2 linked regions of the Homo sapiens genome follow. The protein of the gene in region 2 purifies or fractionates together with the protein of the main gene of each other region. This does not show direct contact. Each region holds a gene or a part of one and is shown on either strand. Other genes may lie near its edges.

What was found. Proteins that work in one complex are often made in the same cells at the same time.
Region 1: the proteins of INSYN2A (region 2) and STAT2 purify together in Homo sapiens (affinity purification with mass spectrometry; 2 studies listed by BioGRID and IntAct, with this or other methods). This does not show direct contact.

What each region holds. Positions count from the first base shown.
Region 1 is NC_000012.12:56,343,108-56,346,757, forward strand, and holds part of STAT2 (signal transducer and activator of transcription 2), read right to left. Parts: intron 3,518-3,650; coding exon 3,335-3,517; intron 3,097-3,334; coding exon 3,039-3,096; intron 1,029-3,038; coding exon 718-1,028; intron 425-717; coding exon 282-424; 3' UTR 1-281. UniProt on the Homo sapiens protein: Signal transducer and activator of transcription that mediates signaling by type I interferons (IFN-alpha and IFN-beta).
Region 2 is NC_000010.11:127,141,033-127,144,682, forward strand, and holds part of INSYN2A (inhibitory synaptic factor 2A), read right to left. Parts: intron 1-3,650. UniProt on the Homo sapiens protein: Component of the protein machinery at the inhibitory synapses, probably acting as a scaffold. Inhibitory synapses dampen neuronal activity through postsynaptic hyperpolarization.

The DNA of each region.
Region 1 (3,650 bases), on a different chromosome or scaffold from region 2:
CTGGCCTGCCCCCAGGACCCCTATACCTCCCAGCACAGCAGGCAGCCTCCAGGATCCTATTTAGACCTATGGCTCAGCATCTGTTCTGATTCATTGTTGTCCCCTCTGTACCCATGTTATGCTTTCACCTCTCACCCCAATGGAGTCACACAGGCCTGAGTTTGAACAGTTAACACAGCTTGGAAGGGACACATGCCTGATTCCCATCCTTGGAGAACAATATCATGCTATGAGGAGTAGGAAGGGCAAGAGATATGAAAAGAACAGAGGAAATGTGGTTCCTAGAAGTCAGAAGGCATCAAGGGTCCATCAGTGTAGAAGTGGCTGGGGCGGGAGACGTAAACCTCATCCACGGTGTTCTGGCCAGCCAACAGTGGGTCACCATTCGGCATGATTTCTTCAATCTTTACACAGTTTCTGAAGACTAGGTAATCCAGAGAGAAAAGTGAGGCCCCGATCTTAGTTAGGAGTTCCCAACCCAGCAGGGAAAGGGAGGGAGGATGGCAGGAAAGGCCTGGGAAGAGCCTGAGTGGGAACTTGTGGGATGAAAGAGCAGGGAGGTGGGGGAAGGCATGTGTAATTCCTAAAAAAAGGAATCACAGAATGGACCTCTCTCCAATGAGGAGCTTGGAGTTCAGCTTTTTCTGTAATGGGAGAGGGAGAAGAGGTAGGAAAGGGAATGTGTGCCATCTTCCATAGCTCCATCTCATCACTTACTTTCCATTGGCTCAGTGTTCAAATGTCTCAGATCACAGGGCAAATCTGGCTCTGGCACTGGCTGTGATACAGGTCCTTGGTCTGGCTCTGGCACTGTTTGTGATACCATGCATAGTGTGGGCTCTATCACAGGCTCCAGAGTGGACTCCAGCACAGACTCTAGCTCTGGCCCCAGATCCAGCCCTGCCTTCAGCAGTGGCTCTAAGTCCAGGCTGAGCTCTGGCTCTGGCACCAGCCCTAGTTCCAGCTCTAATGACTCCAGCTCTGGCTCTGGCTTAAGCTCCAGCGGTTGTTGCAGTTCATCCACCTGTCTGGATACCCAAAGACAGACAAAGGGGCAGGGCTCAGTGGTTCAAATGAAATCAGGAATGGTAGAATAAGCAGAAGCTAGTCTAAGAAGGCAGTAGGGCGGAGGGCTAAAGAGCATGGGTTTGGAATCAGGCCTCCTGGAGTTTGAATCCTGGCTGGGGGACCTTAGGCAAGTGGCCTAACTTTTCTGAGCCTCAGATTTATCATCTATAAATGAGAACAATACCTAGTAATTCTTGAGAGGCAGTAGGGTGGTTAAAATCAGGGCTACGGAATCTAACAGACCTGTATCATTAGCCACGTACCTTAGGTACAAAACTTGACTACTCTAAATCCAGTTCCTTAGCTGAAAACAGTAACAGTGTTTACTTCACAGGACTATTTTGTAGATTCAATAAAATGAGAAAATAAATGCAAACCATTTAGCCTAGTGCCTGGCGCATAATAAACTCTCAGGCCAGGCATGGTGGCTCACACCTGTAATCCAAGCACTTTGGGAGGCTGAGGCGGGCAGATCACTTGAGGCCAGGAGCTCATGACCAGCCTGGCCAACATGGTGAAACCCTGTTTCTACTAAAAATACAAAAGTTAGGCCGGGTGCAGAGGCTCACGCCTGTAATCCCAGCACTTTGGGAGGCCAAGGTGGGCGGATCATGAGGTCAGGAGTTTGAGACCAGCCTGGCCAATATGGTAAAACCCTGTCTCTACTAAAAATACAAAAATTAGCCAGGTGTGGTGGTTGTGCGCGCTTGTAGTCCCAGCTACTCAGGAGGCTGAGGCAGGAGAATTGCTTGAGCCTGGGAGGCAGAGGTTGCAGTGAGCTGAGATCGTGCCACTGCACTCCAGCCTGGGCAACAGGGCGAGACTCTGTCTCAAAAAAAAAACAAAAATTAACCAGGCATGGGTGGCGCTCGCCTGTAATCCCAGCTACTCAGTAGGCTGAGGCAGGAGAATTGCTTGAGCCTGGGAGGCAGAGGTTGCAGTGAGCTGAAATTGCACCACTGCACTCCAGCCCGGGCAATGAGAGTGAGACTGTCTCAAAAAAAAAAAAAAAAAAAAAAAAAATTCTATCCCCAGCCAAGTGCCATGGCTCATTCCTACAATCCCGGCAATTTGGGAGGCCAAGGCAGGAGACTGCTTGAGGCCAGGAGTTCAAGACCAGCCTGGGCAACACAGTGATACCCCATCCCTACAAAAAATTTAAAAAATTAGCTGAGTGTGATTGAGTGTGATGGCGTGTGCCTGTAGTCTCAGCTACTTGGGAGGCTGAGGCAGGAGCATTGCTTCAACCCCTAGGTCAAGGCTGCAGTGAGTCATGATTATACCACTGCACTCCAGCCTGGATAACAGAGACCCTGTCTCAAAAAAAAAAAAAAAAAAAAAAAAAAAAAATATATATATATGCGGGGTGTGGTGGCTCACGCCTGTAATCCCTGCATTTTGGGAGGCCAAGGTGGGTGGATTGCTTGAGTCCAGGAGTTCAAGAACAGCCTGGGCAACATGGTAAGACCCCATCTCTACAAAAAATACAAAAAAAATTAGCTGAGTTTGGTGATGCATGCCTGTATTGCTTGAGCTCAGGAGGTCGAGGCTGCAGTGAGCCAGGATCACACCACTGCACTCCAGCCTGGGCGACAGAACAAAACCCTGTCTGGAAAAAAAAAAAGCTCCATGCTTGCATCAAGTAGGTACCCATTAACACCAGTGATTATGATCATTATTATCCAGAAACCCCTGTGGAGACAACCTAAGGATGGCAGCAGAAAAATATGAGATAGGAGAGACTAGAACCAGAAAAAACTAGAGTGGGCTAGGAGGGAGGGAAGGCTGGGGAGACTGGAATAGGGCAGCTTAGGAGAAGGCAGAAAGGAGAGGCTGTGGGAATGGCAGGGCAGAGCAGCTGACCATCATCCTGGTGCTCCACCCAGGAGAAGGTAATGCCCCCTTTTGACGATTCACTGAAGCAGAGCCAAAAAGGATTAGGGAGGATGAATGAAGAGTTCATATCTCACCTATTAGAGACCACAATGAGCCTGTGTTTCAGGTATTTCCTCCGTTCCTGGAGATTAACTGTGAGGAACATATACAAGAAGCAGAGAAGATCAGTGGGCCAGACATATAGCCTGAGGTTCCCCTAGTGCAGATGGTCCTGGCAGTCTCATCCCCATAGTAACCAGCAGTATCCCATGGACGAATCCCTTAATTCCTCTAGATATCAGTTTTCCCATGCTTTAAAGGAAGGAGTGGGATCTATGGATGTCTGGTAGATCTCTGCAATCTAGCAATGAAGTATGTCAACGATTCCCACCTTTCTCCTGGTAGTAGCACCCAAAAGCTTCATCCCGGGGGATTCGGGGATAGAGGAAGCGCAGTGGGTTTTCAGGTATATTCTCCTCAGTGAGCAACTGGTAATGGCGGATGATTTCAGTCAGCGGGAGTGACTGCAGCACCTCCTTCGTGTACGGTTGCACAGAGTAGATGAGCACCTTGTCTGGAGAGTGAATGCAGGAACAGGCGGGCTTGAGGGAAGAGGCCGGGCCTTGGAGCTCTCTGCTCTGGCTGCCCAGTCCCAAACCAGCTGAGGGATTCAGTTCAGAGCCAGGGAAGCCAAGGGCAGGCAGAGG
Region 2 (3,650 bases):
ATCTTTGTCCGGTGCTGCCAGCTTCATGATTATCACTTTCTCCCCACCTGAAACGCCTTTCTGGGCTCATGGCATGGCTGGCATTCCTTGGCCCACTGTTTCTCAGGTCCACATAACCTCCTTGTTGTCTGACCACCTTCCCAAATGTTGCCCAATCCATCCTGTCTTATTTGTTTTTGCACTAACCACAGATAATTATTCGTTCCCATATTACTTGCCTTCATCTTCCTAAATGCATCTTCTCGAATGCAGGCACCATAATCAGAGATGCCATGCGGTCATCCTCTTTCTGTTTCCAGCAACTATAGCAGGGGCTGGGTCCTAGCAGTTGCCTACGTAATATTGCTAGAATTAATGAATGAGAACAGAGTCTTAAAAGGCAAATTCTGGCCAGGCACGGTGGCTCATGCCTGTAATCCTAGCACTTTGGGAGGCCGAGGTGGGCGGATCACTTGAGATCAGGAGTTCAAGACCAGTCTGGCCAACATGGTGAAACCCCATCTGTACTAAAAATATAAAGTTTAGCTGGGTGTGATGGTGCATGTCTGTAATCCCAGCTACTCGGGAGGTGGAGGTTGCAGTGAGTTGAGATCGTGCCACTGCACTCCACCCTGGGTGACAGAGTGAGACTTTGTCTTTAAAACAAAAAAAAAAAAAAAGCAAATTCTACCTCACTTTTAGTCCCAGTTGCCCTGGACTGCTTTGTTTTGGCCAAAAATTATGTTGTGTCCTCCCCTGTGTCCTCCCACAATGAGACCCCTTCCTTGCCACAGACAAATAGGGCTCTGCCTGGAGGCATTGTCAGAACCACTCCAGATGGAGTCTGTGGCCTGGTTCTATTCTATCAGAACTTATCGAAGATCCTGAAACATTTTCTGCAAGACATACTCCAGGATCTTTTTGGAGCCTGGCTCCCATGCCACGGTCCCCTCCTTTCCGTCTTCTAGGATTCTACAGTAAGATCTTGGATAGAATGGGTGGGGCCAGCAGGGTCTGCTTGTGAGTGACCAGCTACCACAGTCGCTGTGCTAAGGGGAGCGTGAGAGTTACTTTGTCCCCTTTTCACTTGCCTGTGGACAGCAGGTGGAGGTCTAGCTGGATGTTTTCTGGGTGATGTTTGTTCTGAGCACCATCACGGTCCCAGGCCACCAGACGTGCTGTGTGCACCTGCTTTCCCAGGGCGGCTCCAGTGCAGGGGCTCATTCTACAGCCACACGGGCACGTGGGAAGCCGGGGCTCCAAACCTTGTTGTGGTTTCTGAGGACTCTGGCTGTGGCTTTGCACAGTCCCCTTGCAACCTCCCAGGCCTCACTCTCCAGCAGCTCAGGAGGCAGGAGGCTGCAGGTGGTGCTGCTGCCCTCCTGCTGGAGGGATCTGGTGTTTGTAAAGCATGGGCAGGGGAGTGTCCATGTCATGAGGAATTCTTACTCCTGGGGAGGAGCAGCAGCCTGGAAAAAGTCCTGATTCTTGAGATTCAAAGCATGAGTCTGAAGCAGCTGGAGCCAGGCCAGCCTTACCTGTGCGGGGTGTTCTGTCCTATAAACACCTGAGTCAAACACAGGCTGTAGATTTTGCTGGGTGAGAAGGGAAGATCCCTGGATGGCTGGGGATATTGACAAGACACGAATTCCTGGGGACTGTAGGGATTTACCTTTGTAGCCCTCTCGCTGCCTGCACCTCCATTCTCCCTCCAGATAAGGGAACCATCCACCCAAACACTCTGTGCCCTGGGGCTGTGTCGCCCTCGCTGTGCTCTTGGCAAGTCCCTGTGATGCATGATTAAAGCAACTGAGAGTAGATTTAATTTCTTGGTTGGTCTTTCCCTTTTCAAAATGAAAGTTTTAAGTGTGGGGACTTTCTTACAACATGATTATTCTGTACATTTCCAAAGAAAGAAGAATCTGCCCTACATCTCAGGCTGCTCTCCAGCCTGCACCTAAGCTTTATTTTCTTCCCAGAGACTGTGCTAGGCTTTGTAGTAACACTTCTCCCCGCTGCCGCATGTGATTTTGCAGAGCGGCATCCTTCTTGCTTCTCCAGCTTATTCTCTGTTTGTCTCATGCTCCTATAAATACTCAGGCCCTGCCACAGTTTCTTTAGCAAGCTGTCACTGAATCCTCAAGATAATTTAAGAGGAACACATTTTTAAAGTTGCCTTCTGCAGTCGTCCATGTGTAACAGTTAAGAGTTAAAAGCAGGACAATCTGGTGCCCCGGAGCTTGCTTTCTGGAAGGGAAGAAAACCCTTTGTCTTTGGGGTCTCTAGCCTCGACAGGGCCATGTGGCTCGGTGGCCAGCAGGTCAGAGGCCTCTGCCTTTAATTCTCTTTGAATTAGATCTCAGAGTCTTCCCCAGTGCTAACCGTGGCTCTGTGCTGACTCAGGCTCTACCACTGTGGATAAATCACCTCACCTTGGGGACCTGAGCTTGCTTGGCTGTGAAGTGATGGCTGAGATGTGCTCCCACTTCTCACAGCAGTCTCCTGGAACAAGGCCTGGGCCCAGGAGGGCAGGTGCACCAGGATGTGGGCTGGCTTTTATTGTGTAGCTTTGGGTAGGACCAGCCATGTCCCCAAAGCACAACAATTTATGTCAACTGACATTGGCGCCAACTTGGCCGGTTTTATGTGAGTGCCATGGGCAACACCAGCATTGTCCAGAGGAAACTAAAAGTTGGGATCTGGATCCCAGGCCTGGCTCTCCCCCTTGCATGGGAGGTGAATTCAGGCAAGTCCTTTCTGGGCCTTGGTTTATGGATGTGACCCTGGCCACCTCGCCAGGCAATAGAAGAACCAGGACCCCAAATATTTGTTGTTCTCTTCTGAACACATCTCCGTGTGCATATCTGAGGGGCACTGGAAATCCAGCATGTCCAGAACCAGATCTTTCCCCCAGCCTGCATCTCTGTCCTTCCAGACTCAGCCTGCAGCCCCCATTCATCTCCCTGGATGACTGCAGACCCTGGAATCAAGCTCAACTTGCTCCTCCTGCCTCAGCATCCCTGGGTCGAGTGGATTTACCCTCAGAACACCCGGTGTCCTTCCTCTCCGCCCACCTTCCACTGCTCTAGTCCAGAACTCCAGCAGTTTCCTCCTTGGCCATTGAAACAGCTTAGTCTCCCTCACTCTCTGTATTCTCTCCCTCTCCAGTTACCAGAGTCACCTTAGGAAAACTGGCAAACTCCTTCTCAAATCCCTGCTTATCCTTCAAAACCTAGGTCACACGTCACTCCTTCTTTCTGTGGATTTTCTAGAATAACAAAGTCCACCCTCCCCCCTGCCTCATCCACACACCTCTGGGATGAGTTACTGCTCTGGCAGCATTGTCTCTAGGTTTCCATGAGAGCCTGTCTCCTGTGGGATCGTAGCTGTCTTCCCCCAGGTCTGTGAACTCATTGAAGGATGGACCATGTTTAATTCATCTTTTGTCTGCAGTGCATTTAGCACAGTGCTGGCTCTGAACCTGCTCTATTTGTTTGTTGAATTACAATAAACTGATGAACTGAACCAAATCCCCTCACTTCTAATCTCAGCAAAGTGCTGCCGCCCTATTTTCTGTTTTCATTTAAAATTTATACATTTGTATAATTCTATTTATTCTGTCTATAGAATTTGTTATATACTATTTCTATATTATATACCTACATTAAATA